Regions from separate parts of the Homo sapiens genome. Here region 2 is reported to be linked to region 1. The links are microRNA targets in miRTarBase. Many come from high-throughput screens and were not tested one by one. Region 1 holds a microRNA gene; the other region holds the end of a gene's coding sequence.

Region 1 (5,074 bases):
CCCACCTTGGCCTTCCAAAGTGCTGTGATTACAGGTGTGGGCCACCGCGCCCGGCCTTAGTTTGGATTCTTAAATCCATTTCTGTGTAACTCGTCTCTTGCTAGCTGTCCACCCCTCAATCAATCAAGGCAACCAAATACTGCTAGTGACAATGCCCCAAAACCACTTCATATTTTCCTGAGCTTCTAACCCAGTTTCAAACTCATTTCTTACTTTGATATACCATAAGCTCTCCTGTTAATGGTCTCACTCCAGCGTTTTGGCCTGAATATTCCTTAGGGACTCTGGTTCATATTTAGCCCTCTAGTATTTCTGTTCCAGCAGCTTTTGTCTTCATATTCCTGTTCCTGGTCAGCTTCCTCCCCATCATCCACCTCTACAATTACAAATCTTCACCACCCTTGCCAAGTCCTCTTCCTTACTCCTATCCCTATCTCTGTGCTCCAGCAAAGAGGTAGTTCCACTTACCTAAGGCTAACCCTCCACCTGCATGTGTTCTAGAGCCATAAATTTCACCCTTCCAGCTTCACCTGCATCATCTTTCAAGATCATCTTCCATCTATTATCATCTCTCTCTTTCTCACATCTACAATGACTCCCTTCTCAATTCCTTCTGCCCCATGGTCTGCAAACACACTCAATTTTTTTCTCATGTTAAATGATTCACTGTAAGGCGCTGGATAAGTGGTTTTAACTTGTATTCTGGTTGTCACATCTACAATCAGAAAAGCTTCTCACAAAATAATGATTAAGTACAATAAATAAGATAAAGAAAATATGAACCTGGTGAGAGGTGAACAGGACGGTGGAGGATTACCTGTCAGTGCAGGTAAGGGGATAGCTGGAGTAAAGTTGAAAGGGGAAAACTTTAAATATCAGCCACAGGAGCAAACCTCAGACTGTGAGGATGAGGTTTCTGTTCAGACAATGAGCACTCTGGTCCAACCCAGGGAGCAATTAGCAGCAATTACAGTAGCAGCAACAGCCATGCAACATCAGCAAGTAGCTAAGACCAAAATGCAGGCATAGAAATGAAGTATTTCATAGAAAACAGAGTAGCAAATATGACATATGAGGCACTTGTGCTGCTACTCCCCCTTCTCCGACCCTCAGCAGACATCACTAAATAGTTATAAATGTCTTTCACACTGAGATAAGACCTGGTTTCAGAATCTTGTTATAAAACATAATCAGGGCAGGCATTATCAATCAATTGGAGATGGTACTTGAGATGAAGTGTATTTGCTATCATTGCACTACACAGAAAAGTCCTCAACAAAAGAATTAGAAGACAGGAATAAGCTTCAGGAGTAAGCATTCTGAAGAGAGCTTGGACGTTGTTGGCAACTGGCGGGGACAAGCTGAGCCCATGGAGATCACAGAGCAGGCGCCCAATTAATGTCTGTTGATGATTCATTTTTTCATTCAACAAACATTTAATGAGGCCTACAATGTGCACCGGATTAGGCACTGTGAATACAAAGATGAGTAAGGCACTGTCCTTGCCCTTAAGGAATTTAAAGTCTGGTAGACGAGAGCCATAGACACGGACAATGATAATACAACCTGCTAAGTGCTAGGACACTTAGCAGGTTGTATTATATCCATCCGAGTAGGATTTCTTCAGAGGAGCACCACTCCAGGTTGCTGCTGGATCCATGAAGTCCTCCCAGGCACCAGGGTCTGCTGTTGTTTTTGTCACGTGCTGGGTGTCCCAAGATCTAACAATAATAGCTGTAATTAATGTATAGAGTGCCTATGACAAACACTTTACAAATATCTTCATGGAAACTCTGAAAATTAATAGTTATATTAGAGGAAGAAACTGAAGTTCAACAAGTTTAAGTCACACAGCCAGCAAGCAGTTGAATTAGGTTTCAAATCCAGTTTTGACAAAGTCTAATGCATTTTTCTGTTTTCAGGATAACCTTTATGCAGGTGTAATACAACAACTTTTCAACAGCTTTCTATTTGGAACTAAAAGCAAAGGCAATAGATTAGTCACTAGATCATGGAGTGATTAATTTGGTTTCCCACTCTACCTGGCAGAGAAATAAAAGGTGAAATGACCTCACACTTACATACCATTGAAAACCTTCAAGTCAGTTACTGTTTTTCTTTCTCAACCCTAACATCGTCACTGATCATTCAAAATATAAGTACCTCTAGTCAAATCTCTTCTTTTAATACTTGTCATAGTCAACACCATTATCAGCAACAACAGTTGACACAGCATTTAGCTGTATATTCCAGGCCTGTTCTAAGCAATTTACATAATTAGTCCCTTTAAGTACTTTTTACCCCCATCATTGAAAATAAATATTATTCCTATTTTACATAAGAGAAAACAGAGTCCTGGGGAAGTGAAGAATCATGCTCAAGACCACATTGCTAAGTGTGAGAGCAGATTTGAGCCCAGGCTACCTGGTCCCAAGACCCAAACTCTCACTTTACATAGCTCTGCTGCACTGCTCAGGGCCTCCTTTCCCAACTCTTGATGGCAAGTTACACAAGGCCCCCTGAAAAACCCAGTCCTACTTACATAAAATCTCATCACTAACCATTCTGGTCATAGAAAGCCATTCTCTAAATCCCAAATATCAATACTCAGAGCCTTAATTGGAAAATTTCCCGAAGAACATTGAGTTTAGAATATACCTTTGCAAAAAGAGAAAATAAACACTCGATATGTTTAGGTTTTTAATTATTGAATTTTTTTTTTACTTGCAGATATAGTCATAAACGTTTTAAGATCCATAAGCAAACTAAAGCAATTATGCCAATAATGACTAAGGCCACTGCTTCCTCAATTGAGTCTTTGATATAAAAGCCTTCACTTTTGGTTAATTACAAAAAAAAAAAAAAAAAAAAAAAAAAAAACCGTGGGAGATATGTGACAGTGAGAGTAGGCCTGCTACTGATGAGAAGGACCAGCAACTTAGCAACACCATAAAATGTCTGCTGCAATTCAGGTGTCTAGGTGTCTCCCTGAGAATCAACATTTCATATACAGCTGTTCCCAGAAAACAATCTTGCACAATCTGTACAGTCAAGTTATGATCTAAAAGGAGTTAATTGCAACATTCATCCAAAGAATATGACAGTATTTTTCATCAAGGTCTTTTTCTATAAGTTTTTCTATAACTTTTCCTATAAGTTCTATTATGTCTATACAGTCATGTGCTGCCTAACAATGTTTAGGACAATGATGAACCTCATATATGACAGTTGTCCCACAGTTGTCCCACCACAAAATCATATCATATTTTTACTGTAGCTTTTCTATGTTTATATATGTTTAGGTACACAAATACTTACCATTCTGTTATAATTGCCTACAGTATTCAGTACAGTCATATGCTGTACAGGTTTGTAGCCTAGGTGTGTAATAGGCTATACCATTTAGAGAGGTTTGTGTTAATATACTCTATGAAGTTCACATGACAAAATCGCCTAACAATACACTTCTCAGAACATATCCCCATTGCTAAGCAATGCATGACTAAATTTTTATAACTTCCTAAGAGGTTATCCCCTCTTCGCCACTCCCACTCCTTTCAGCCCTACATCATTTCTCATCTTAGCCACCACAGTATCCTTCTAACTCATCTCCCTGTCCAGATTTGAAAACATTCCTGAACACACCCCACACTACTGCCAGTGATCATCTAAAAGCATCCCTTTCTGAAAACACTTATAATGAAATCCAAATCCCATGGCATACCATATAAAGTTCTATTCCTGGCCTACATTTCCAACCTAATTTAGAGAACTATTTGTAGTTCCCCAAACTCATCATACTACTTCCAATGTCCATGCTTTTGCTTGGAAAGCCTTTCCCTGTTTTTCACCTAGTCAAAAGGTGACTTTACTTCTTTAAAGACTCAACTCATATACCAGGTACTCTGAGCTCTGTCATCTCCAGACTCTGTAAAATGATTTCTCTTTGAACTCCAGAGTATCTTATACATACCTCCATTGTAGAGCATACCATATTGTTGTAATTATATGTGTACATAGATGTTGATCTCTCTCACTAGACTGAGAACTCCTTGAGGACGGGGATGGTGTCTAATTCATCTCCATATCCCCACTACCCAGCACAGTGCCTGGCAGCTCAAATGACAGCAGAGAGGAGAGATGCTGAATATGCAGGAGTGAGAATAAAGCAATGTTCTTGAGTAGTGGTACAATACAAATATGCTGAATGAATTGAAGCTATAGAAAAACATTTTGGGGCTCAATGTTGTAAAGAGGTCTCAAAAGAAGGGACAAGCTAACTCAAGGAGGAGTCCCCAGTTACCAAGTAAACTTACTCAGAAGTTAAAAGACCATTTGTTGGGTATGTTATCCAGGGACTTGAACTGGGGTTAGTTTAAAATAATCTATTTGGGATAGGAGACTTTTAAGGTCCTCCCATACTGGAGCTTCTAAATCTATGATCAGTGCCACAGTCAAGAGAGCCATCATTCTGAGAGCCTATGTCACAGAGTGAATGGTGACTCCCACAGTTGTGGACAAAGGCTAAAAACAGATCACAAACTTATAACTCATTTGGTTGGGTGTGGCGGTTGACACCTATAATCCCAGCACTTTCGGTGGCTGAGGTGGGCAGATCACTTGAGCCCAGGAGTTTAAGACCAGCCTGGACAACATGGCAAAACCCCATCTCTACGAAAAATACAAAAATTAGCCAGGCATGGTGACATGTGCCTGCAGTCCCAGCTACCCAGGAGGCAGAGGTGGAAGGATCATCTGAGCTCAGGGAGGCGGAGGCTGCAGTGAGCTGGGATTGTACCACCGCACTCCAGCCTGAGCAACAGAGTGAGACCTTGTCTTAAAATGATACAAAAACAAACAAAAAAAAACCCTCATCCTCTGTTGATCCTGTTCCCAATTGACCCTTGAACCTGGCGCAGGAAGTGTTTTTAAGGCCAACAAGAAGGACATCATGACCCTAAATATATCCTCTACAAGCTGCTACCTAATGTTTTAAATTCCCCCTTAAACCTTTGGTGCCTTTCATTCATGTTTGCTAAAATGCCACTTAATCTAATATGTTGAGCTAGTATCA
Region 2 (5,066 bases), not on the chromosome of region 1:
AGCTGATTGGGTAGGTGCCATGCTTATCCACCTGGGAGGTTAGAAAGTTGTTTGGACTCAGAAGGCTTAAAAGGTTAAGTAGCTTAAGGAATCAGAACCAGTAAGTGGCAGAGCCAGAATTCAAGCCCAAGCAGCCTGACTCCTCCCCATGTCCCTGGTTGCCACCATCACCTCCCATTATCACCATCCTGACATCATCTCCCTATCTCTCTCTGCACTCCTTTTATCTTGTTCAGACTGGCCTCTGGGACATACCAGATGCCCTTCTGCCTTGGGGCCTTTGAACCTTCTTTCTTTTTAGAACACTTTTCTCCCAGATGCTTCTCATTCCTTCCCTCCCTTTGAATCCATAAATGTCTCAGTGAATCACATGGTCACCTCTCCTACAGTGGCTGGATGCGCTTTCCATGTGTCCCAGGAAGGCCCAGCCAGGACACGGGAGACAGACTGGGACTGGGTGTGGAGAAACCTTTGAGTCCCTCTGGGCTGGGGTCAGCTGCCCTGTGGAGGCCGGGAAACCAGTGCCTGGGGTGCTTTTGGCACTCCCCAGTCATGTGTGGAATTAGGTGGTACAGTAGTTTCACTTGCATGCCATGCAGTCTTCCCATTCATTGTGGCTGAACATCTGGTGGGTACTCATAAAAATTATATCATGGCCTATGCAGTGCCATGTGGAGCAAAGTGGATGGCTCCATCCTTCACAGGATGACCTTGAGGCTGGAGGGTGAAAGCAAGAAGACTTCCAGCCCCTCAGAATAGTCGTCTCCCCAGGGTCCCATTTCCCGGAGCCCTCAGTAAAAGGGCTGCATCCTCACGGCATGATGGGAAAACCGACTGACTTCAAGAACCTGAAGAAATCACACAGAACACAACAGCACCTCTCCGCACCCTCAGGACCTGGGAACCCTGGTCCTCAGCTCTACAGCTGGTAAGGGCTCATGGTGCCTTTGACTCTAACCTCTTTCATGGTGATTTACAGATCTTGGATGTCTCCTCTGCATGTTCAGGATTCAGATAGCCTGATGAGAAAGGCAGTACTGTTTCCAGATGAGGAAACCAAGGCTCAGATCGCTGGCTGTCTCAGCTTCATCTCACACTAGTGCTTCTCTGAGCCCAGACTTTTGGCTCCAAGAACAGTGCTCCCTCCAACACACTGGGACATCAGCACACAGTCTGTGAGGAACATGTAGTCGGCGGGTGCTTATTGTCAGACTGTGGCTCCAGAATTCAGAAAACCCCATGCTGAATGAATAAGCACTTCAAATTGGTTGGAGATGCATTCCCAAAACACCTCTCAGGGTAAGCCACGATGCTTCCCAACTAGTGCTGCTTCAAGATGTGGCTAAACACCTCCAACAAAATTCTCAGATAGAAAAGGCAAGAGCCATTATATTCATAAGTCAGAATTTATTTCATACCATCTCACTTATAGCATTTTCAAGTACAACATTCTGCTCAACATCATTTACACTTGAAAACAGAAAAGCACAACTTGGTAAGGCACCAGGTTACGATAGTCTGGAGAGAAGGCCTTGCTCCCATTTTGGCTTGTGTAATACCTGGGTAGTTTCTCTTGAGTCTGTCAAGCAGAGAACAAGGTTATAAAAGGTCCATTTATACATACATGGTAACAAGAGATAACAAACAGTTTTGAAGTATGCTGTATTTATAAATTATAATGGTGGCCTACACTTGTAGTTCAGCCAAAGTGGCATTCTCTAAAGCAAAATTCTTATAAAATCTTCTCTGCAATACCAAGCTGCAAGTTTAACAATTTTTTAGCTTTGAAGTGAACCAACTTTATATTTAACTCAAACACATACTTTAAAAACATTTTCGGCCCCAAACTCTATGTTCACGAAGAAATAAAAATGGAGGAAAATCTCAAGTATAATCGTACCTTTACTATTCTATAAAATGCAGCAATATATTTTAAAAACTGTTGCATTTAAAGGTCAACCCACTAGATTTTTAACACTAACAGTCCAAGGTGTTATCAACCCCACTTAAAATTCAACTGTATAAAGCTTTCAGAACTGGGCCACACAGGTGTACTTCACTGAGCACTTTCCACCCATGGCCTAAAGGCAGGAGGTGTGGAAGTCCCCTCCAGGGAGACCAACTGCAGCCCCATACACTGTCACACGCATAAAACTTCTTTCAAGTTTTGTGTTCTATCTTAAAAATGAATTTGCACTATACTCCATGCCATTTACTTTAATATAAAAATAGTGTTTCAAATCGCTTACCAGTTAAATAACTCATCTTCCCTCCCACACCTCCAGGCACCAGACAGGCAGAGCCCAGCCTGGGAAGCCTAGCTTTCCACAGATAGGTAAGCCAGGCGCGGCAAGATGAGACTGTATTCAGTTAGGTCTATTTTAAGCATTTCCACAAATCATTTTATTCCTTCAGGTTGTAACTAAATGCTTCAGGAAACTATGACCGACATCAATTCCAATGTGTTGAATAATCAATCAGTCTATGTATTTTAGTGGTTTAAAGATTAATCTTTTGTTAAACAAAGAAATTTGTTAATTTTATTTACTAACAGGAATAAATAGAACCCCTAACCTAAAGTATAACCTGATCTTTTACTTTTTCTATAGAAAAACACAAACTGGATTTCTTTTTAACATAAAAAAGACAACACAAAACCCACAGAAAAATAAAATTCTTCTATCTAACTGGCTTTACAGATTTCCCTCATTAGTTGTGGATGTGACTTTGGTGGCTCTGGGTCACCCACCGCAAGCCCGACCCTGCAACTGAGTGTTCAGGCTGCCTTGTGGTGTCTCGGAAGCATTCCTACCAGAGTAAAAGCTATTCTCCTGAGATGGCACCTTTTTCTCCAGAAGATTCAGCCCTAACAGCTGCCACCTTGAAGGATGTATTTCACTGTCACAGGAAGCAGCCAAGTATGGGGGCCATGGTCCCGGCATGCACCTGGCTGGCTACACGCCCCGCCCCTCAGGAGTCCTCAGAGTCCACTGGCCTCTGCTGCTACTGCCCTGAAAGCCATCTGTGGCTTTAACTGGTTGTTTTAACAGGTTTCAAGAGATGTTCATTTTATTTTTTGTTTAGATTTAAGATGTCCTAAAAAATGTATATATTAAGATACACTTAAAAACATACTCTGAATATAATAAAAAAGATGTTGGTTCAAAAAAGGGTCAACAAGAAGAGGAAGCCAAGCTTCCTAGCATCTGTTTTTGTGGCCACGCTTTTCCCCATTAATGGTGTGAAAGTCTGAATCAACAGCAAATACAGCCATACAGACCTATGTATCTGTGTGCATGAGTGTGCATGGGTGTGCACACAGAGAAGTACATCTTGGCCGACTTAAGAAAAAATTATCTGTGTTGTGTCCCACAAACACTTGCTGTTGGCCTTTCAAGAGTATTCACCTCCCTGCCGAAGAGACAGCTTGAGTATGGAGGTTTAAAAACAATCCAGACAGGTGCTCCCTGTTGCCCTCGTTACCTAGGATTGAGGCAGTTTGGTGCACGTATTACAGTACCGAAAGCAAATGTCACTTTCTGATCTCCACAGGAACCACTCCCTAAAACATGAAACTACTGACCAACACTTGCTTTCCTCCGCATAGCACTTTGTCTGTGTTCATATGTGTCAACACAACTGGACTAAGAAAGAAAAGTCCCAATAAGGAAGTTTCCTTTTTTGACTACAGAGTGCCATACAGTCAGTGGGATGTTTTCTGTTGGTTGTTTTTAAATCATAAGTAACTGGGTATTAGCAATTGACAAAAGTGACTGGTTTGAGGTTTTGTAGGCAGAGGTCTCTCACTTTTTTTCTCAGATTTTTGCTCCTTAAAAAAAAGGCATGGTTTGCATGGAGTTTCAAAGCTAAGAACTATTGTTACCATGGTTGACCTGTGTACATAATGCACTGTGCATTAAGTAGCCCTTAATCAAGAGAGGGTTAACCATAGTGTTCCTCCCTTTTGCTCTTCTGTACATTATAATGTAGCAGAACTTCATTCTTAACATCCAGATTAGAGGTGTCTTCTTCATATTAGATATAAATTAACCAGAGGTCTAGAACTCTAAATTTCCAGAGATGTGAAAAATGTTTAATTTACTTCAAAAATATCTTGCATAAGTATCTCATCCCTAAGCTCAAACAAACAAGAAAATTAAAGGCAGAAAGAATACATAAAATTGAGAGCTCCTCCTATAATACATATACACACACTCTCGATATAGGTTCTACGCAGTAAAAGGAGTTGTTTCAGCTAATATAGCTTCTAATATCGATTTCATCTGAAAATAGCCTTTCTGGGTGTCTTGCCAGCATCATACGAAACAGCAGTACTTCTTCCACCAGGACTTGGAGAGGTTTTTCATTTTATCTGGAGTCCTGCTTTTAGACTTCTTTGGCTGTTGCTGAGTGTCCGAGTATTGAATGCCAGCGACGATGGCTGCATCAAAGACCTCTTTGAGGTTTTTTTGAGTCAAGGCTGAACACTCGATGTAGGAGGCGGCTTTGATTTCCTCGGCGCACAGCTTAGCCGCCTCTTCAGGCACTGGCTTTTCTTTGCATTTGTCCAACTCAATGAGGACTTTGACATCTTCTCTGAGATCCGACTGCGTTCCAACTAGGATGATGGGGGCTTTGGGACAGTGGCATCGAATCTCCGGCACCCATTTCTCACTGACGTTCTGGAAGGATGAGGGGCTCACGACACTGAAGCAGAGCAGGAAGATGTCTGTGTTGGTGTAGCAGAGAGGCCTCAGCTTGTCAAATTCATCCTGCAACCAAGCAAAGTACCCAAAAGTTATGTTTTCATGAATTCTCATCAGTAAAAAGATCACCTTCACATTTTTCATGAAAGGGTCTGGCAGGTGATAGAAGACCCGCTGGTTCTAGAAGGAAGAGCCAGCATCCTTGAAACGATCCTACTGTTTACCCAAGCGGGGCCAGTGCACCAGCGAAGGTGTGGCAGCCATCTGCTTTCAGGGCCAGCTATGGTCTGAACACTGCCAAACATGTTCAACGTGTTCATCGACACTCAAGACCTACTTACAGCTTAACATAGAAAAAGT

Evidence for each region. Region 1 holds the annotated microRNA hsa-miR-374b-5p (AUAUAAUACAACCUGCUAAGUG, at 1,583-1,604, opposite strand). A microRNA usually pairs through its seed, bases 2 to 8, with sites in the 3' UTR of a target mRNA and lowers its output. Matches are read on the target gene's strand: a 7mer-m8 pairs with bases 2 to 8, a 7mer-A1 pairs with bases 2 to 7 and ends in A, and an 8mer does both.
Region 2: the mRNA of RHOU is a reported target of hsa-miR-374b-5p. Seed matches in the 3' UTR shown: 7mer-m8 at 4,196-4,202, 7mer-A1 at 3,980-3,986, 7mer-m8 at 3,142-3,148 and 7mer-A1 at 1,674-1,680.

The regions. Positions count from the first base shown.
Region 1 is chrX:74,217,005-74,222,078 of GRCh38, forward strand. It overlaps MIR374B (microRNA 374b), which reads right to left and starts at 1,614; the gene lies at 1,543-1,614. The region is part of intron 5 of FTX (FTX transcript, XIST regulator); the gene reads right to left. It overlaps MIR421 (microRNA 421), which reads right to left and starts at 1,457; the gene lies at 1,373-1,457. It overlaps MIR374C (microRNA 374c), which reads left to right and starts at 1,545; the gene lies at 1,545-1,614.
Region 2 is chr1:228,742,991-228,748,056 of GRCh38, reverse strand. RHOU (ras homolog family member U) reads right to left here. Exons shown (of 3, transcript NM_021205.6): 3 at 1,393-4,772. The coding sequence ends at 4,317. Among named protein-coding and RNA genes, the nearest start is that of RHOU, 10 kb to the right of the region's middle.